Homo sapiens: one gene and its partners. The protein of the gene in region 3 interacts with the protein of the main gene of each other region in a pairwise test. Each region holds a gene or a part of one and is shown on either strand. Other genes may lie near its edges. The genes, in order: PPIL6, BAZ2B and BIVM.

The links.
Region 1: the proteins of BIVM (region 3) and PPIL6 interact in binary tests that used the Homo sapiens proteins (3 or more experiments, as listed by UniProt).
Region 2: the proteins of BIVM (region 3) and BAZ2B interact in binary tests that used the Homo sapiens proteins (3 or more experiments, as listed by UniProt).

Annotation. Positions count from the first base shown.
Region 1 is NC_000006.12:109,395,544-109,402,653, forward strand, and holds part of PPIL6 (probable inactive peptidyl-prolyl cis-trans isomerase-like 6), read right to left. Parts: intron 4,628-7,110; coding exon 4,492-4,627; intron 1-4,491. UniProt on the Homo sapiens protein: Probable inactive PPIase with no peptidyl-prolyl cis-trans isomerase activity.
Region 2 is NC_000002.12:159,382,484-159,389,593, reverse strand, and holds part of BAZ2B (bromodomain adjacent to zinc finger domain protein 2B), read left to right. Parts: intron 1-108; coding exon 109-249; intron 250-2,986; coding exon 2,987-3,241; intron 3,242-4,224; coding exon 4,225-4,439; intron 4,440-5,913; coding exon 5,914-5,988; intron 5,989-6,791; coding exon 6,792-7,035; intron 7,036-7,110. UniProt on the Homo sapiens protein: Regulatory subunit of the ATP-dependent BRF-1 and BRF-5 ISWI chromatin remodeling complexes, which form ordered nucleosome arrays on chromatin and facilitate access to DNA during DNA-templated processes such as DNA replication, transcription, and repair.
Region 3 is NC_000013.11:102,794,545-102,802,227, reverse strand, and holds the start of BIVM (basic immunoglobulin-like variable motif-containing protein), read right to left. Parts: upstream 3,110-7,683; 5' UTR 2,707-3,109; intron 1-2,706. Other genes in the region: POGLUT2 (protein O-glucosyltransferase 2 isoform 1 precursor), read left to right, coding at 3,558-3,739, 5,219-5,424.

The DNA of each region.
Region 1 (7,110 bases), on a different chromosome or scaffold from region 3:
GAGAGTTCTACTGGACAGTGCTGGCCTGGACTCCTCTCAGGCCCTCACCCCCGACTCTAACTTCTTTTTTTTTTTTTTTTTTGAGACAGTCTTACTCTGTCGCCAGGCTGGAGTACAGTGGCGCAATCTCGGCTCACTGCAACCTCTGCCTCCCAGGTTCAAGCGATTCTCCTGCCTCAGCCTCCCGAGCAGCCGGGATTACAGGCATCTGCCACCATGCGTGGCTAACTTTTTGTATTTTTAGTAGAGACGGGGTTTTACCATGTTGGCCAGGATGGTCTCGATCTCTTTTTTTTTTTTTTTTTTTCCTGAGACGGAGTCTCACCCTGTCACCAAGTCTGTAGTGCAGTGGTGCGATCTCCGCTCACTGCAAGCTCCGCCTCCCGGGTTGACACCATTCTGCCTCAGTCTCCCAAGTAGCTGGGACTACAGGCGCCTGCCACCACGCCCGGCTAATTTTTTGTATTTTTTTTAGTAGAGATGAGGTTTCACCGTGTTAGCCAGGATGGTCTCGATCGCTTGACCTCGTGATCGGCCCACCTCGGACTCCCAAAGTGCTTCTCTACTCTAACTTCTCAATGTCTTGAGTTTGTCCACTTATCACCTGCTCATCTGTACTGCTGATGCTTTAGAGCAGGACTTCATTTATGGCCTGTTATAACCATAGCTTCTTAAGTGGTCTTGCTACTTCCTTTTCATTCTTTGCCAATTCATTCCTCACTTCTGCTAAAGAGATTTTTTCTTCAAAATGAGAAGCTGGTTATGTCGCTCACAATGTAAAATTCTCCCATGGCCCCCATCACCTTTGCGTGAGGTTCCTGCTCAGCAGCATGGCACCCGCAGTCCATTGGGAGTTGGACCCTTGCTGACCCTCTTATCCGGCCTCCACCCTTTCCATTCTCCCCTAAGTACCAAGCTCTGCCCAGAACAGATGACTTGTAGATAAGATGCTCTCTTACTCCTCAGGGCCTCTCTGCGAAACCTCTTCACTCTTCCTAAAACTGATTTGACTCATTGTGATTTCTAGCTTCTCTATCTGGCTAACTTCTACGTGACATTTCACTCCTCAGCTCACCTTCTCATGAAACTTTCCATGACCCCCTCCCACCTTACAAGTCTCTTAAAATGAAATAATTCCCCCTCCCCCAAACCCCTTCTACAATGGGTGCACGTGAATGGAGAGCTTACAGGCTTGTTTTGTGATATTCTTTCCCTATGAGCCCACTGGGCCAGCCATGCTCTGTGGATTGCTACAGTCTTTCCTGAAGGACATTCCCAGTGTCATCCATCTGAGAGAGCGGCAGGTTCATGTACCTGGAAACTGGGCTTGGAAGGAGTGCCTGTCTTGGATCAGAGAGGAATATTCTTTATCTCTCTGGACCTTGCTAACCATGTCTGGGCTTCCAAAAGCTCAGACACACCTGGGGATACTGAGAGATGATAGGGAAGAGGCAGCCCTACAACTGGGAAGGAAGGTATCCCTGAAGGAGTTCTATTTCATTAGTTTAACTAGATTATCTAGTTGCCTATTATGTTTTACATTTCTGCTTCTCCCTTAGCACTCTGTAAGGTCTTATTTAAATATTCCAGCCCAGCCCCAACTGTGATTTGGAGACTTTGTTTTTAATTTGGAGATTTAAGGAATACACTGAGATCATACTTGAGGCAGAATAGCAGAATAGAAGGAGGGCAGTGCCTCCCTGAGGACAGAGTGGTGATAACAAAAATTAGAGATTTCTCCAAGAGGAAGGTGGATCATAGAGAACAGGAACCATCAAAAGGAGACCGAGTGCTCTCCACTCCATTGCCGCCCTGTAACGCTCTGTGTTCGCTTTGGTGAAGGGAGTTGGAGGGTGTTTTCTTACCCATCTCCCAATGCACCCTGTACACAGTTTGCATGGCCCATGTCTCACTGTCACATAGCTATTGGCTATTTGACCTTGTTTTCATAACATACTCTAAGCTCGCTGAAGAGCAGGGATTGTACCTTGTCGCTCTTTTTCCCCAGCACTGAGTACCATGAATGGCATACTGCAGGTGCCTAAAGAAATTCTGCTTGAATGAGTTGGGAAAACAGCAGAAGTGAAGGCTGAACAAAGGATGTGGGGCCAGAGGACCTGGAATGCCACTCTAGACTTCAGGCTGTGCAGATGTGGAGGTGGTAATGGAGGCACTAAATGTTTTAAAGTAGTCATGTTTGTGTTTGAGAAAGGTACCTTTAGCTGAGATATAAAAGATCACCAGGAAGTTGGTAGAGGACAGAGACTGTCAGCAACATGACAGAGATTTAAATGGTCCAAGAAATGTTATTTGGATTTAAATGATTCAAGAAATGTTATTTGGATTTAAAACTTTTTTTTTTTTTTTTAAATGGTGTCTCACCCTGTCGTCAGACTGGAGTGCAGTGGTGCGATCTCGGCTCACTGCAACCTCCCCCTGCTGGGTTCAAGCAATTCTCCTGCCTCAGCCTCCTGAGTAGCTGGGACTACAGGTGTGTGCCACCATGCCCAGCTAATTTTTGTATTTTTAGGAGAGATGGGGTTTCACCATGTTGGCCAGGATGGTCTTGAACTCCTGACCTCATGATCTACCCGCCTTGGCCTCCCAAAGTGCTGGGATTACAGGCGTGAGCCACCGCGTCCAGCCTTAAAACTAATTTAATAATGCATTTTCGAAATCAGAATACAATTTATTGGGGACCAGGGAAAACTTAAGACAAGTCATTGTTTTACGTTATGCATCTATTAATGTAATGTTATCTCTTTAAAGATATCCTATGGATGAAAATACACTTTCTATTTTTTCAACCTGGAAGTATCACAGAAAGCATTACACTAAAGGAATTACTGTGGTTAAAATGAACACTGGCATGACATTCCAGGTGCTGGAGAGTCAATAATTATCCCTATGGAGTGGGTGGAATAAATCTAACAGTTATTCAGAAAAATACAAACACTTTACATTATCTCAGGGAAGAAGAAGTAAGCCCTGCCTCATATTCACTCAGTAATTAAAGAGAGAGATGAAACACTGGAGTGATGAAAAGTATTTCTATCATCCATTTTAGGTCCACATGGCTTTAAGCATCTTGCTAATAATATTCTAATAATAACTATTACCTGTGATGTTTTCATATTTAAAATCGTTCAGTAAAAAAAGTTATATGTAACTTGAATAGTTTTCATCTACCTCTTCATGATGTCCATGGACAATTATTGAAATGACTTCACCTCTTCACTTCTACATATTAGTATATTATTAAGCACTGTGGTATGATTCATAGTAATAAAGAATTGATAATATCCTTAAGGCTGAAGATTTGATAGATGGATAGATAGAGACACAGAAAGAACATTATTGTGACTATGCCTAAATGGTTTCTGTTTTTATTTTTTTATTTTGTCTTATATATTTTTTGAGGTAGGGTCTCATTCTGTTGCCCAGGCTGGAGTGCAGTGGCACAATCATGGCTCCCAGGCTCAAGCAATCCTCCCACCGAAACTTCTTCAGTAGCTGGGACTACAGGCACACACCACCACACCCAGCTAATTTTTATTTATTTATTTATTTATTTATTTATTTAAGACAGAGTCTTGCTCTGTCGCCCAGGATGGAGTGCAGTGGCACGATCTCGGCTCACTGCAACCTCTGCCTCCTGGGTTCAAGCAATTATCCTGCCTCAGCCTCCCGAGTAGCCGGGACTACAGGTGCATGCCACCACGCCTGGCTAATTTTTTGTATTTTTAGTGGAGATGGGGTTTCGCCATGTTGGCCAGGCTGGTCTGGAACTTCTGCCCTCGAGTGATCTGCCTGCCTCAGCCTCCCAAAGTGCTGGGATTACAGGTGTGAGCCACTGCACCCGGCCTATTTATTTATTTTTGAGACAGAGTCTTGCTGTGTCACCCCGGCTGGAGTGCAGTGGCATGATCTTGGCTCACTGCAACCACCTCCCAGGTTCATGTGATTCTCCTGCCTCAGCCTCCGGAGTGGCTGGAATTACAGGCACATGCCATCATGCCTGACTAATTTTTGTATTTTTAGTAGAGACGGGGTTTTACCATGTTGGGCAGGCTGCTCTGGAACTCCTGGCCTTAAGTAATTCACCTGCCTTGGCCTGCCAAAGTGCTGAGATTACAGGCATGAGCCACCATGCCAAGCCAGATAATTTTTAATCTTTTTGTAGAGATGGGGTCTCGCTATGTTGCCCAGGCTGGTCTTGAACTCCTGGGCTCAAGCAATCTCCCACCTCAGCCTCCAAAAGTGCTGGGATTATATGCCTGAGCCACTGTGTCTGGCCAGTTTCTGTGTTTTTATAGATAGCAAACTTCTTGCAAAATATTTCTTAAATACTTTTGTCTCTATTTGTATTATTTTTGCATTTAAGCCCTATTTTTAGCTACCTATACACTATATACAATACTTATCCAAATATTTTTAAATGACATTTTTACAGGTGTGAATATTATATAAATAGATCTACAATATACATACCCAAAAGCCACAAATTTTCTATCTAGATAAGGAGTTGCTTGCAGTGTGATATAGAATTGTGACCCGTTGCTGTGACGGCCTTTGTTGGCCATTCCAAGTACTCCTCTTTTATTATGAGGAACTGAAAAGTTTTCATCTAGGAAAGACAATAATCAGTAGGTCATTAGCACATTTCTATTATCTCAATTTATTGTAACATATAAGGAACAAATAGAACCCTTGGTAACACTCTCAATCATATTTATCAATGGATTCCAAATTGTAAATATTCTATTCATTTCAAATTATTTTCAAACATGCAAATGGGCTGTTTAAAAAAACCTGTAAAACCTTATTAGAACTATTGGAACATTCAGCTTTAGTTTGTCTTTACCATAAACAAGTGTGCTAAGAAAATTAATAATGTACAAGGAAATATATACAGTATTCTAATCAAGAATAAAGGTCAGCAAACTTTCTCGTGCTGTTTTGGTATTTCTTTCAAACTACCACCATACTCATTAAAAACACCTCCTCTGAGAAGTCTTTTGTGGACCTGACCTTTCCCCCGAACCCCCCAAGCATCTTACACATCGTTCTTGGACAGTCCTTATAACACTCGATGTAATTATTGGTTTACATGGCATTTCTTCTCTAGTAGGTGAAGGCAGGAACCTTGTCTCCTCATGGCTTTAGCTCCAGGCTTCTCAGCACATTAATTGGCATAAATGTGGCCCTAAATGTTTGGGCAGATTTCCATTCCATGTACTTTCCCATTCCATGTAGTTTAAAAATGTTGATGATGAAAGGAAATTAATTGTTTATTTTTAGTGATCTTCAAATAAAATTTTTTTTTTGTTTTTTGAGAGGGAGTCTCGCTCTGTCGCCCAGGCTGGAGTGCAGTGGTGCGATCTCAGCTCACTGCAAGCTCCGCCTCCCGGGTTCACGCCATTCTCCTGCCTCAGCCTCCCGAGTAGCTGGGACTACAGGCGCCCGCCACCATGCCCGGCTAATTTTTTTTTTTTTTTTTTTTTTTGTATTTTTAGTAGAGACAGGGTTTCACTGTGTTGGCCAGGATGGTCTCAATCTCCTGACCTCATGATCCGCCTGCCTCGGCCTCCCAAACTGCTGGGATTACAGGCGTAAGCCACCGTGCCTGGCCAATCTTCAAATAAATTTTAATCTGAAACCTTATTTGGATTGACCAAGATTTTGTGGAAAGCAATAGCTTTTTTAGTGTAAGATTTAGAAGTAAAAAGAGTTGTATGGTGATTATTAGGCTACCAATTTGAAGACGTACCATTCCCAGCTTTGCCTCCAAGTTCAAATACACAGAAGGAAATAATGGATGAGAAATTCAGTGAATTTTTTCATTCAATAACTTCATAAATTTCTGAGAATAACTGAGAAATATGAATATTAACTGTCTATAAGATTTTATTAAACTGCAACTGCTGTTATTAAGTTTCAAAACTAAGCAAACTAAGTGATTAAGCCATATCTGGGTAGTTACTTTCAGCCTGGTAAGTTGAAAACTGAATAAAGACCCCTGAAACCTTATGAAATGCTGATGAGGCATGTTTGTACAAATGAGTCTATATAATTACGCTGATGCTCCTTATTCATTTCAGTGAAATAAAGAAAAAAACTCATAATTTCACAGAAAATTGCATGAAATGGAAATCTGCCCACAGCAAAGACTCAGAGAGTTTTTCTTTTTTTTTTTTGTGAGATGGAGTCTCGCTCTGTTGCCCAGGCTGGAGTGCAGTGGCGCGGTCTTGGTTCACTGCAAGCTGCGCCTCGGGTTCATGCCATTCTCCTGCCTCAGCCTCCCTTAGTAGCTGGAACTACAAGCGCCCACCACCACGCCCGGCTAATTTTTTGTATTTTTAGTGGAAACAGGGTTTCACCGTGTTTGCTAGGATGGTCTCTATCTCGTGACCTCGTGATCTACCCGCCTCGGCCTCCCAAAGTGCTGGGATTACAGGCGTGAGCCACCGCGCCCGGCCCAGATTCAGAGAGTTTTAACAGAATGGTATTTGTCATTGCTTTTACATATTCTGATTTATTTTTCTTAAATTCTTTAAAAATTGGGAAAGAAAATTGATGAGTTGTAACATTTTTATAAAAAATTCTGTGATTGTGGGATAATTTTAAAGCAGTTAATCATAATACCTATCAAAGAAACTGCTACCTATGTGAAAACCCATGTATAAAACAGTGCAAAAAGTGCCTAGAGCAGCCAGGCACAGTGCCTCATGCCTGTAATCCCAGCACTTTGGGAGGCCAAGGTGGGTGGGTCGCTTGAGGCCAGGAGTTCGAGACCAGTCTGGCCAACATGGCAAAACCCCGTCTCCACTAAAAACACAAAAATTAGCTGGGTGTGGTGGTGCATGCCTGTAATCCCAGCCACTTAGGAGGCTTAGGCACAAGAATCGCTTGAACCCAGGAGGCGGAGGTTGCAGTGAACTGAGATTGCGCCAATGCACTCCAGCCTGGATGACAGAGAAAGACTCGGTCTCAAGAAAAAAAAAAAGTGCCTAGAGCCCTCTCATCTCCTGAACACATTTATTTAGGACAGCATGGAAATCCTTAGAGACAATTTGAGAACCATTGCTATAAAGGGACAGAATAAATTAT
Region 2 (7,110 bases), on a different chromosome or scaffold from region 3:
GTAAGATTAATGAAAAGCAAAATAATTCAATGTTGCTACATAATTCTAAGTTTATTCCAACATATATAATGATTAAGAAGAATATGTGTACATGGTTTTCTTTTTAAGGAAAAAGAGCGGTTGAAACAAGAAAAACGTGATGAGAAAAGATTAAATAAAGAGCGTAAACTAGAGCAGCGAAGATTAGAATTAGAAATGGCAAAGGAACTAAAGAAGCCTAATGAAGACATGTGCTTAGCAGACCAAAAGGTAATTTATACGTCATGTACACCATTTCATTCATAAGTTTAATTTTTCCAGTTTTCTTACCTGATTTCTTTGCCAGAGCTGCTATTGTGAAAGCCTTTCATTTTTAACTATAGCAGTGAATTTCCAACTCTAGGTCAATTTGCCTTTCCTAGATAGCTAGAAGTAAACCTCTCTGGAGCTCTTGTGCTGGTAATGGCGGTTTTTTTGTTTGTTTGTTTGGTTGGTTGGTTGGTTGGTTGGTTGGTTGGTTGTTTTCAGACAGGGTCTTACTCTGTCATTTAGGCTGGAGAGAGGGCAGTGGCAGGATTATAGCTCACTGAAGCCTCAACTTCTCGTTCCCAGGCTCAAGTGGTCCTCTCACCTCAGTCTTCTGAGTTGCTGGGACCACAGGCGCTTGCCACCATGCCTGGCTAGTTTTTTGGGTTTTTGTTATTTTAATTTTTTGTAGCGGCAGACTCTTATGTTGTCCTGGCTGGTCTTGAACTCCTGGGCTCAAGTGATACAGCCACCTCAGCCTCCCAAAGTTCTGGGATTCCAGGCACAGAAAAATCTCAACTCCTCCCCACATCCCTATGGATATTTAAATAAATGAGGATTTATAATCTGTGACCTCCTTCAGTGCTTTAGGTGGCAAACCTTTATTGAACATGTTTACTACATGCTAGGACTGTGCTAAGCACTTATTTGAATTTTCTCATTTAATCCTCAATACAATCTTGTGGAGTTAGTATTTCTTCCCATTTATACATGAGAAAACTGAGACACAAAGAGGTTAAGGAACTTGCCCAAGATTACACAACTAATAAATGGCGATTTGGATTCAAACTCCAGTTTGTTAAACTCCAGAGCCTATACTGTTTATCATCCTGAAAGCCAAGAAACTGTGTCCAACCAAAGCACCTCATATGTGTTTTGTCTTCCATAGTGCTTCACAGACATGTAATGTTGCTGAAATACATAAAAGTATAAATTTAGAAACATTGCTGTAATCTTGGCAACCAGCATAATTTCATATACTTTTGAGTAAAAATCAATGATGTTTTGACTATAGTTAAGAAGATGGTACTTCTAGAAAAATATCAATAATGCATTTCATCTCTATATTATTATACTTAATTAGTAGGATATGTATTTACTTATATGCAATATTCAAATGATTTGCAAATAATGATTATCTCTTGATTTATGTAAGCTCTTTTTTTATTTTATTTTATTATTATTATACTTTAAGTTTTAGGGTACATGTGCACAATGTGCAGGTTAGTTACATATGTATACATGTGCCCTGCTGGTGTGCTGCACCCATTAACTCAATTATGTAAGCTCTTTTCTAAAGTGCTTAAAGAAAACTTTTAGTACTCTAGAATGGATTGAACTATATTAATATTCTATTTATTTACTTAGCATAAATGCTTCTAAATAAAAATGAGAGTATACTTACTAGTTGTAGTCATTTGGATATTTAAATTTTCCTAAGCAGAGAATGGGTATATAAATTAGTTAACACATTTAATAAGCTCATAGTGATCAAGCTTTTTAAATCCTAAGTGAGCTTCATTTTCTTGTATCTTTTATTTTCATTTAAATTCATATGTACTATATCAAATATGTAAGTCCATTTTAAGCCATATTTTTAATAGCTCAGCTTTGCTACATAAATTTTTAGAATTACATAGAAATGTATATGTTTCCTGTGGTTCAAGAAAAAGGGAGAATGAGAATTAACTGGCTTTCAAGAAGAATATAAAATATTTGTATGAGATGAGCTATTATCTATAGTTTTGTGTTTCCACACAGTATTAACAGAAAAAGTCTTCAATTGGTTACCTCAATAAATGCAGAGTGGAGAAATATTTTTGAACAAGGACCAATTCAGATAAATAGAAATATTTATGTCACTTTTTTTCCAATTAAAATTTAAAGTACTTTTTTAGGCTCTCATTAACAGGCAAAATGTTTTTAATTCAGATTACCTATTTATTGAAATTTTAAAATGTTGATGACAACTGGTACTGCAATTAAGTCATTAAAATGTTAATATGTGAGCATATTTGAGAAATAACAACAGAGATAGCTAATTTTAATACTGAAGCTAATACTTGCCTAAATACAGGGAAACCTAAAGACCTTTAGTTGCATTATAACTGGGTTTATGTACAGGGTCATGGATTCTAGTTATGTGGACCTAGTTATTTATCTGCATTCATTAGCCATAGATGGTACCACTTTCTCCAACCATAGAGCCCACAGATGCATGCTGTTTGTTTCTAAGCTACAAAAAAAGTGTGATTTTTAAATGTCATCATCATTAGAAGAAATTGGTGCACATGCCCCTATAAGTATGTCCATGGTAAAGTACTTTTGAAATGTTTATATTTTATTTAATTTTTGCTCCAGTTATATAATCCATGTTTTGTTAATATGGATATGTCAGTTGATTGAATATGCAAGTTGATTAAAATTAATGTCTCTTTTGCAAAGATCTAAGTTCATAATTGAGTTCAACCAAAATTTATTAATGGTTGCTTACTTGTATGAAGATACTTCAAGACACTATGCTTAGTTCCATGGGGGTTACAGAAATGCCCCCAGAGAATTTAGCATCCCAAAGGAAGCTACTGGTACAATACAAGAGGGGAAAAAAGGTAGCAGCTTATTTTACTTTAGAAGATACGAAATCATGGCTTTTAAAAAATTAAGCTGTTTTTATTTTATTTGTATTTCATTTTATTTTCAGCCTTTGCCAGAGTTGCCTCGTATTCCAGGACTTGTTCTCTCTGGAAGTACATTTTCAGACTGTCTCATGGTGGTGCAGTTCTTACGAAACTTTGGTAAAGTTTTGGGCTTTGATGTGAATATTGATGTTCCAAACCTGAGTGTTCTTCAAGAGGGATTGCTAAATATAGGGGACAGCATGGGTGAAGTACAAGACTTGCTTGTGAGGCTCCTCTCAGCTGCTGTATGTGATCCAGGTCTAATAACAGGATACAAGGTAAAAAAAAACAAAATATAAAATGTTTTAAATTTGTACTGTCAGTGCATTGGTAGATAGCTTTAGCATATTAGCAGAAGATTATATAGATTGATCTAATTTTTCCACATAATGTCTCACAAAGTTAACTGTAGATTTGTGTCAGGTTACACTTCATACAAAGAAAACCTGGTTATAAAGCTTAAGGAATGTAGACCATTCTCAAGTTATTCTTTTTTCCTCTAGCTGTAGGCAAAGACCAAGGTGATTTAAGGAAATCCTTAAGCGATATTCATCAACAACAGAATTCATAATTCATAAGGCAACTAGAACTTGTATGTGCCTTCTGATATTATACCTTGTTCTCTCTCAATCACTGTGAATAACTGAAGCTAATCAAGGCACCTACAGACCAGCACGTTAAGACCCTGTGCTGCTCAGTGGATCCTCAATAAGTTCATGTTTATCTTAATTCCAAATACAGTATACATTCCAGGGAGCTTTGCTCTAGATAATATTGTGGAGAGAGAACCTCCCAGATGCACCTGTTTTTCTTCTATCTCCCTCAGTGTTTCCCTATTTATTATCCCCAGCCAGTAAAACCTATAACACTTTAAGGGTAGAAAACAATACTGTTTTTTAACCTCCCCACTCTGTCATTCCTGATAAAATATCCAGATGAAACTTGGGGAAAGGTTGGTGTCGCTTTTATAGTCATGGAAGGCTTGATAGGTAATTTAAAACTTCTGCTACCCATGAATTTGCATACTCTTCTCCCTGCCTGACTTGGAACCAAGGATTTGAAGCGGGGAAAGAAAGAAACAAATACTTGAATATTTGTCTGTCTTCTATTGACTATTTTTGTGTCTCTTTCATTAAAAAAAAAGTGAATAAAGCTCTTGTCAGTAGTATCTAAATCAAATAATATGAGGATTTTTAATCTTATTGTTTTTATGGTATAAATGGTTGTGAGTAATACTGATAAAAATGCCAAACTTTTATAGGCTAAAACAGCTCTTGGAGAACATTTGCTGAATGTTGGTGTGAATCGAGACAATGTTTCCGAGATTTTACAGATATTTATGGAAGCCCACTGTGGACAAACTGAGCTTACTGAAAGTCTGAAGACCAAAGCTTTTCAGGCTCACACTCCAGCACAGAAAGCTTCAGTCCTGGCTTTCCTGATCAATGAACTGGCATGCAGCAAGAGTGTGGTCAGGTGAGCATATGCCCAGGCTTTTCCGTGATTTTTCCATTTTGAATTTTTCTAATCAAAAAGTAATACAAATTGATTATAGAAAATTGGAAAGTTACAGACTAGCACAAAGAAGAAAATTAAAATTGTACTTATCTCAGTATTTAGAGATGGCCACTAATAATATTTTCATGTATTTCTTTGTAGTGTATTGAAAAAAAATTTGGATTATACTGTGTGTCTGTAATACGTGGTCTTTGTCACCTGTTTTGTTTAATAATTCTGTTAATTCTTTATACATAACTTTTTTTATATTTTTAGTTGCTATGGTACCAGAATGTGGTACCACCACAAGAATACAGAATTTTTTTTTCCTTCACGTCTTTTAAGGACAGATGACTACCTGATTTTGCTTAGTAGCCATTCACAGAATTACGTAGCCACTTTTTATTTTGTTGTATGCTAATAGAACCATAGAGTATTTATTTATCAGTGTATTAATTTATACTTTTTTAAAGCATTTGATCCTATTTAAAAGTCAGAGTTCTCACTCTAGTACTTGTTACTAGTAAAATACTAATACCAACATGTACTCTAGTATTCAGGATTTCTGAACAAATTCATGTTCATCTTGTCCTTGTTATTCATTATTTTACAGATTTTTAACAACTTTTAGTCCTTTACCTTTCTAGAAAAAGGATCAATCCAAATATTCGGGGTCATGCATTTCTACCAGTGTGGAAATTTTAAGTTTTCTGTACCTATCTTAGCTATGATATTGTATTAATGTAATTTTTTGTTTGTTTCTGCTATTCACTGACAGTCATCCTAAAAAATATAATAATATTCACGTCTTACAATTTTATGAAAGAATAATTTCATTTAAGCATGAGCATGATAACAAATAGTAATGCTAAGTGGCACTTATTCAAAACACATACACCCAAATTCAATGTAAATGGTACACTATGGTTTTTGCCTTAGAAGGGAAAAAGCATCCCTATTTGACTTTACTGGTAAAGTAAAACAGAATGGTAAAGAATATCATAATATTCTTAGTTACTGTTTGGTTGTTTATATATATACACTTAGTGTATATGCATATGTATGTATGTGCACTTATGTAAATATCCATGTGTGTTCTGGTATCCTGCTTTGATTTTGGAAATTATCACATCTTAAAATACCTGCAACAAAACTTGGAATATTGTCTTTCTAAGGCAATTGATGCATAGTTTCTTTCTTGGTTTAAGATAGAAACCACAGTGAATTTTCTAATACTAATGTTGTATCCATTGAAGAAGTTATCACTTTTCAACATCTGTGTATACATATATAAACACATACATATATGAACGTGTATATGCATGAGGTCAGTTGTATCATTTTTACTTATTCAAAAATGCATTAATTTACGTATCAAGTTTATTGCATATCAAATTAATGCATTGCATAAATTGATTAATTTACACTTTTTAATAAATTCTTGCATTGGCAGTGAAATCGACAAGAACATTGATTATATGTCAAACTTGAGGAGAGATAAATGGGTGGTAGAAGGTAAACTCCGCAAGTAAGTCCTGTTTTATTAAAGTTAATGTACTGTTTTCTTTTTCTACAAATTCCCAGTAAAGCATATGAATTGCAAAGATAGAATTTAAACTTTTATTGTCTAAAGAAAAGATAATGCTCAATTTAGATGGGATATAAAATTAATAAAACTCAGGGGCAGAATTTGCAATGGACAAAAGATATAATGAGATTCATTGAGCTTATATTCTTCATACTTAGAAGAAAGTCATTTTCTCTTTTTCTTTTAAACAAGTCAAGCAATTACATTTTCTAAGATTGTGGTTGCTATTAAGTTGCTTTTATCACAAACAGAATGTTTGGAACTGTAACTTGTTTTCTTAATTGCTTTCTAATTAAAATTTGCTTTTACGGAATCTAGCTAAACTTATTCAGCATTAAAACTTAATTATCTTCCTGCCAGAAAATATCAGGCAGAAATTACTCCTATGTTAAGAGGTTAGTTTCTTTGTAGTAATTTGAATTGAAATTTATTCAGTCAGTTAGTATGGGATCAGAAATTATTACTCAGCCATTGTTAGAATTCTTCTTTTCAACTTTCATCATTTTTTTTAATGAGTCTAATTCCAAAGAGATATCTAGAATAACTCTTGAAAGTGAATGCATCCTGTAATTTATGGAAACATTTCTTAAGTTTCCTAATTCTAATTTTTTTTAACATTGGTATATCGCTTAACACAAAAGAAATGCCATAAGGTATTTTTGCATACAACTCATGTTTTGCTCTTTTAAAAGTATATTGAGAAGTCTTTTTTTCCTTGTCATCACTTTTCATAATATTTAAAGGCTCAGAATCATTCATGCTAAGAAAACAGGCAAAAGAGACACTTCAGGTGGCATTGATCTGGGAGAAGAGCAGCATCCCTTGGGCACACCCACTCCAGGACGCAAGCGAAGAAGGAAGGGAGGAGACAGTGATTATGACGATGATGATGACGATGACAGTGATGACCAAGGGGATGAAGATGATGAGGATGAAGAAGATAAAGAAGACAAAAAAGGAAAAAAGACTGATATCTGTGAAGATGAGGTAATGAAATTTAGGTTGATTTTAAGACAACTAGAACTGCATAACATATTTTTAAAAACAGAATTTGGAGTCAGA
Region 3 (7,683 bases):
TGTCCCTCCACTTAATAGGCTGCAGCTGTCACTGTTTTGACTCATCTTTTATCTCCTTTTGTTTCTCTATTTATAAACTATTCCCAGTGAGTTGACACTTCTAACCTGACCTGTGCAGAGATATTAGAAAATAAAGTTTGCTACATATATATGATCACAGAACTCCTCTGCCTGAAAGCCTCTGCTCTTAGAACAAAAGGCCAACTCCTGATGGTCCCTAGATCTATCTGGTTAGCTCCATCTCATTCCTTTCCCCCACCCCCCAAGCTCCACATTACTTTTTGGTTCTCCCAATACTGTCTCCCTTACTTAGCTCATTCCCATTCATCTTTCCAATGTCAGCTCAAATGTCACTTTCTGGGGGAAACCTTCTTGGCTTCTCAAACTAGGCCAGGTGACCCGGTACAGACTCTAGTACCTTCCTCACACAGGTCTTACCAGGTGGCAATTTTACACTTACTTCTGTGCATATCTGTTCATATGATCAACGTCTGCATCCTGCAAGTCTGGTTTTCCAGATTATTGTATCCCCAGGGCCTAGGATTTGTAGACGTCTCATTCAACAGATAATTTTTAAGTGTTTGCATCATGCCAGGCATTACTGTAGGCCCTCATTTTGATTGATTGCGGTTCCCTCTTCCAGGCAAGTGAGGTGTTGCTATATTAAGATTTACTAAGCCGGCGTGGTGGCTCACACCTGTAATCCCAGCACTTTGGGAGGCTGAGGCGGGTGGATCATCTGAGGTCAGGAGTTTGAGGCCAGCCTGGCCAACATGGTGAGACCCGTTTCTACTAAAAAAAAATAAAAAATAAAAAAATACAAAATTAGCCGTGCATGGTGGCGCATGCGTGTAGGCCCAGCTACTCAGGAGGCAAGGCTGGAGAATCGCTGAACACCAGAGGTGGAGGTTACAGTTGCACCATTGCACTCCAGCCTGGGCGATCAGAGCAAAACTCCGTCTCAAAAAAAAAAAAAAAAAAATTTACTACTAAGAATGACTGCAGGACCTCAGGCTCAACTAATAGCTTACTCATAAAATCATGTCATAAGCAATAGAAATATGGTTTGCTCGTATGCAAAGCAAAAATTTATAAAATGGCAAGTTTAAAAAGCACCGCCAGAGTCATGATTGTTCAAAGTCACTGAACGAAGTGTTCTGTAAAATAAACGTCCATTTGTAAAGCCAATCTTCATCGCCTAGGTTGTAGTCTTTTCAGGTTATATTTTGTCTGTATTCTCAAGTATCAAGTTTATGAGAGAACCAAACATCTCTAAAAACCTCTTCAGTAAAGCCTTTTCGTATAACAAAATACCCTGATCGATATCCTGTATAGAAGGCAACTGAGGAGCAGGGGCATTCCGGTGACCTCGTAAGGGTCGAATATGCGCGGGAGGGCGAAACCAGAGGCGCATAGCCCCCGGCCGAGCTAATGCCACCCTTCCCACCCGGTGTCCTCCCGCGCCCTCCAGGCCCCTTCCTCCCCTTCAGACCTGCGGGTCCCCAGAGCCGAGGCGCCAGCCTGTCAAAAGATACCGGGAGTCCTCCGCGCCTGGCGCCAGCCTCCAGCCCGCGCCCCTGGGGAGGCCGGGAGCGTTTCCACCACCGTCCTCTGACAAGCTCGCCGCTCGGCCGGGCTCCGAGGCCGCCGGGACGGAGTAGACAGTCGCGCAGGCCAAGCCCCGCCGCGCAGAACCAGTGCGCGCGGAGGCGACGCGGGCAGAGAGGAAGGAGCGCGGCTGCGCTCCCTGCCCGTGGCCAACCCAGCCCGCGCCTCCGCGCGTGTCGCGGGCACCCCGAGTCCCCAGCCCGCAGAGCCCAAGGGCCGCCGAGGCCTCCTCGCCCCTACTCCCTCCTCTACCTTCCCTCACCGGCCGGAAGACGAGGCTCTCCGCCAGGGGGAGCGCGCCGAGGCCCGGGGGTGACCGCCTCGAACATGCTTGCCCCGGGCCCCGGGGACGCTGTTGGTGTTAAAGGGGGCCCACGGGCAATTGCTGCATCCGGGCTAAGAGCTGGGGCTCCGATTCGACTGTTTGAGTAAACGAGTCGGTATCATTAATAATGACAATTGCACAAAAGAAAATAGGAAAGAAACCCCCTTTCCTGGCGCCGAACCAGGCCCGCCTTGGCTCGGAGCCACCGGCTCTTCTGGGTTTTCGGGGCAGCTGGCAAGAGGGAGGCAGGCAGAGGAGGCGGCTCCGGGTCCGACTGCCAAGCTGACCAGGGCGGTGAGCCCGTGACTCCTGGCGGCGGCCCAGACCCGGGTGCTGGCGTGCAGGGGAAGGCGACGGCCGCTGCGCGCTGGTTCCCGGACCCTGCCCAGCGTGGCGTGGAGACCGACGGCCGCACAGGGGTCACCGGTATCCACATGGACACCTCCTAATCGAGCTTTGTTCACCAGAGGGCTAGGCCCTTCTTTCCCTGGCGCTTCTCTTCCCCCCGCGACACAGCTCTTCCCCCTACTCCTTCCCGGGAGAGCGCGCACCCATGCAGTGGCCTCCATCTGGACGCCACGGGGCTCGGAGAGGCGATGACCCCTGGCAGCCCAGGCCGGTATCGAATTAAGTAAAAATTTTGAATGCCCAGGTGGCTGCGCGTAGAGCGGCAGCAGGCCGGGCTGGCGGCGCCCAGGTGCCCAGCGGAGGGCCAGGCGCTCAGAGCGCACAGCCGGCCGCCACCTCGGCCCCTGCCCCCCGCCCCGGGGTACCTCTGGCCTGTCGGGTGGGGTCGGGTCGCTGCGGCCGCGGCGGAACCCGGCTCCGGACCTGGATCACAGCATCCAGCGCGCGGCCGGCGAGGCGCCTCCTGTTACCCTGGGGCCGGCGTCCCTCGTCCCATCGGAGCGAGCGAGGATGCTGCGGTGCCCGGCGACAGGTCGTCGGATAGCATTGACAGCACCTTCCTTTCAAGGTGCTTTATGCCTGCCCTCTCCACGTGCGGAGGGCAGGGTGACCAACGCAAAAACCTGAGCTGCGCCTCCAGACCCGTGCGCCCCTTTGATGGGCATCTGTGGTGTTTATCTGTCCCCCGAAAGCGGTGACCGAGAAGTAAATAAATGGGCGAGAGGTGGTAAAATCCTGGCAGTATTTCCGCTCGTCCTGTCGCGAACTACATATCCCAGGGAGCCCGGGGCGCCGGGACGCGTGTCCACCCCGCCATCCACTTGGAGAAGGCGTTACTGAGCCTGGCCCGACGCACGGGCCAATCCCCTCGCCCTACACCTTGGCTGGAACCTGAGACGGATTCGCTCCCAAATGATGCTCCAGTGGCAGGAGCAACTCAAGTTCATCATTGTCCTGAGAGAGAGGAGCAGCGCGGTTCTCGGCCGGGACAGCAGAACGCCAGGGGACCCTCACCTGGGCGCGCCGGGGCACGGGCTTTGATTGTCCTGGGGTCGCGGAGACCCGCGCGCCTGCCCTGCACGCCGGGCGGCAACCTTTGCAGTCGCGTTGGCTGCTGCGATCGGCCGGCGGGTCCCTGCCGAAGGCTCGGCTGCTTCTGTCCACCTCTTACACTTCTTCATTTATCGGTGGATCATTTCGAGAGTCCGTCTTGTAAATGTTTGGCACTTTGCTACTTTATTGCTTCTTTCTGGCGACAGTTCCAGCACTCGCCGAGACCGGCGGAGAAAGGCAGCTGAGCCCGGAGAAGAGCGAAATATGGGGACCCGGGCTAAAAGCAGACGTCGTCCTTCCCGCCCGCTATTTCTATATTCAGGCAGTGGATACATCAGGGAATAAGTAAGTCGAGAAACGGCTCCTTACCTATTTTGGATGGCGGTTAAATCTGTTTCTCCCTTTAAGATTTTTCTTTCCAAGAACTCGTTTCTCCACAGCAGTTTATATTCCAGGATATTTGGTTACCCATTTTTCTCTGTAGCTGTAGAAATTGTTCCGAATTATAATATATGCAATATAATGTATTGTATATAACATATAAAATAATCTCCTAGCAATTTTGATTCAGATTCCCACATTATCAGGGCAAGACAAAGTCCCTCCACTTTGCTGGAAATACTGTTTCTAACTACTTTTCGCATAAGCTATTATAAGGGATTTAAACCTAGTTGTTAGAGACTTGATGGGCTTCATCTTTCTCTGGTGCGGCCCTCAATTTTCAAGGAGACATCTGCAGGTAAGCATGTTTTGAAACTGAAAAAGAAAAATGAAGTACTATTTGAAACTTCAGAGTTCGGAAGGAAAGTATCGAAGTATTAATCTCCTATATGATTGTAACAAATATTTTGTTCCAATGAATTTAATACTTTAACATCATACTTAAAACTTATTTTTATAATTCCTATACTTCTGAAATGATTGTCTCTATTATTGGTGGATGCTGACTGTGTGTATTTCATACAGAAAAAAATACTGGAATAAAAGGTTGTCAAGTAAAAGGCAGGTTGTAAATTTTGTTATTTGGCAAAAGATGATACACTACCTACTACTTTGCTTTTGCCCATGGCTGAGCGTGAGTTTTTTTTTTTTAAGACAGGGTTTCACTTCCTAGCCTAGTCTGGAGTGCAGTGGTGCAATCACAGCTCACTGTACCCTCAACCTCCCAGGCTGAAGCTATCCTCCCACCTCAGCCTCCCTAGTAGTTGGGACTACAGGCGTGTGCCACCTCGCCTGGCTATTTGTTTTTTATTATTATTATTATTATTTGTAGAGACAGGATCTCACCTTGTTGCCCAGGCTGATCTCGAACTCCTGGCCTCAAGCAGTCTTCCCTCCTTGGCCTCCCAAGATGTTGAGATAGTAGGCATGGGCCACAGTGCCAGGCCTGAGCGTGATTTATAATACTGATATTGTAAAGATTCATTGGCAGAGATTTTTCAAAATAAGATCATTATCTTTGGGAGCATCATTTGATCACAAATATCCAGATGTGATAGCATGAAATAAGTTAGTAAGAATATTTTTCCATATGGAATGCATGAGTATGTTCTGTGCTTATATAGATTAATAGTCTTAACATACTCCATTGTGACTGTTTAATGAAACTGTTTCATGTTATCTTGGCCATTGTCATCCTCATTTTTTTAAATCTCTGATCCATCATATTCATTCTGGTACTAAAAGCATAAGAGAAGAAGAAGCAATCATATGTTAGAGGAAGAATGTGGAGGAGAATAATCAAGTTTCCAGACTGAAGAGCATAACCTTTGTGTGTTTGTTCGTTAAAATCTGTTTATCTCCCCCATTGCCTTTTCATCACAGATTCACATCTTCTCCAGGCGAAAAGGTCTTCCAGGTGAAAGTCTCAGCACCAGAGGAGCAATTCACTAGAGTTGGAGTCCAGGTTTTAGACCGAAAAGATGGGTCCTTCATAGTAAGATACAGAATGTATGCAAGCTACAAAAATCTGAAGGTGGAAATTAAATTCCAAGGGCAACATGTGGCCAAATCCCCATATATTTTAAAAGGTAATTTGGAATATAATTTTATAACAGCAGTATTTGAATAAAATAATATATGTTATTCCATCAACAAAAACAACTTGGCATGATATATATATATATATATATATTTTTTTTTTTTTTTTTACTGAAAGAAGAAAAATAAAGGCTTTCTACTTGAAAGCTAAGTTATGAGTCCTGGTAAAAAGACATTCAAGATTTGAACGGAAATTCTGATTTGCTAAAGAGCAAGGAACATATTAGTAGAGAATTTACTCCGCGAAGACATACATTAGCAAGAATAATCAAGCTGTGTTCATGCTCATATATGATACTTTCTTAATTGGAAATATATGACTTAAGTAACTGATAAGTGTTATTGAAATTAGGTAGATCACTTCAGGAAGGGAGATAGCTCGAAAGACAAGGAGCGCACTGGTGGTTGTTTTTTTGTCTTTGTTCCAATGCCATTTTCCCAGAGAAATTCTCTGACATTTATTTATTTATTTATTTATTTATTTTTTTTTTTTTTTTTTTGAGGCAGAGTCTCGCTCTGTCACAAGGCTGGAGTGCAATGGCGCAGTCTTGGCTCACTGCAAGCTCCGCCTTCCGGGTTCAAGCGATTATCCTGCCTTAGCCTCCCATGTAGCTGGGATTACAGGCACGCACCACCATGCCAGGCTAATTTTTGTATTTTTAGTAGAGACAGGATTTCACCATGTTGACCAGGATGGTTTCGATCTCTTGACCTCATGATCTGCCTGCCTCAGTCTCCCAAAGTGCTGGGATTACAGGTGTGAGCCACCATGCTCGGCCATTCTGATGTTTCTTATATAGGATGAGAGTACAGTTTTATTACCTAGAGCCATCTCCTTCCCTCTTACAGGCGACAGTACCACAAGACAGTAGGGAAGCAGTGTATATACAAAGGCAGAAATCTTGTCCCCCCCTTAACAACCCCAAGAAAAGTAAACTTTTTTTTTTTTATTTTTGTGAACTCTGCAGAGAAGTAAGAAAAGGTAAACACTTTTCAAGAGTGTCTAGGTTCCTTTCCTACATTCTGCCAGTACAGCCTGGTACAGTATCACCCACTAAACCTTAAAAAGATATTCCATTGTCAGCCACTGCCTGGGTTAGGTGGGATCTGAGAATTATAAAAAGGAATAACAGTAAAAACCTCAGTGCAGACTGTAATTAATTTGTTATAAAATTAGTGAAGTGGACTGTTTTGAGAATTACTTTTGCTTCTTTTTGTTGCCGTTGTTGTTGAGACAGGGTCTCGCTCTGTTGCCCAGGCTGGAGTGCAGTGGTGCAATCACTGCTTACTGCAGCCTCGACCTCCTGGGTTCAAGCAATCCTCCCACCTCAGCTGCATGAGTAGCTGGGACTACAGGCACTCACCACCATGCCCCACTAATTTTTGTATTTTTTGTAGAAACAGGGTTTTGCCATGTTGCTCAGACTGGTCCCGAACCCTGGAGCTCAAGTGATCTGCCCACCTCAGTCTCCCAAAGTGCTAGGATTACAGGCGTGAGCCACTGTACCCAGCTACTTTTGCTTTTTTTTTTTTTTTTTTTTTTGAGACGATGTCTCGCTCTGTCACTAGCCTAGAGTGCAGTGGTGCAATCTCGGCTCACTGCAAGCTCTGCCTCCCGGGTTCAAGCGATTCTGCTGCCTCAGCCACCCAAATAGCTGAGACTACAGGGACGCGCCACAACACCTGGCTAATTTTTGTATTTTTAGTAGAGACGGGGTTTCACCATGTTGACCAGGATGGTCTCGATCTCCTGACCTCGTGATCCGCCCGCCTCAGCCTCCCAAAGTGCTGGGATTACAGGCATGAGCCAAGAACCCAGCCTACTTTTCCTCCTTAATAATTCTTAAAAAAAAAAAAAAAAAGAATAGCAGTTCCTTGTTTATTTTTGCTGTTATTGATGATTTACTTATTGAGAAAAGTACCTTAGACACTTTAAGAACCTGTTTGTATAACAGACCATCAAAATAGTAAATCATATCACTTTTGTCTTTCATTAAAATAGGTATGCTCCTCTGATACCCTTTTACCAGTATTTGGTTATTCTTCAGTCTGCAAAACATAAGGAATAATGAGCTGTAATATTACCATAGACATAAACCAAGTATCTGTTGTCTTTCTTTTATTTTTTGAAACAAGAGTCTCACTCTGTCCCCCAAGCTGGAGCACAGTGGCACAATCTCCGCTCACTGCAACCTTCACCTCCCAGATTCAAGCTATTGTCATGCCTCAGCCTCCTGAGTAGCTGAGAT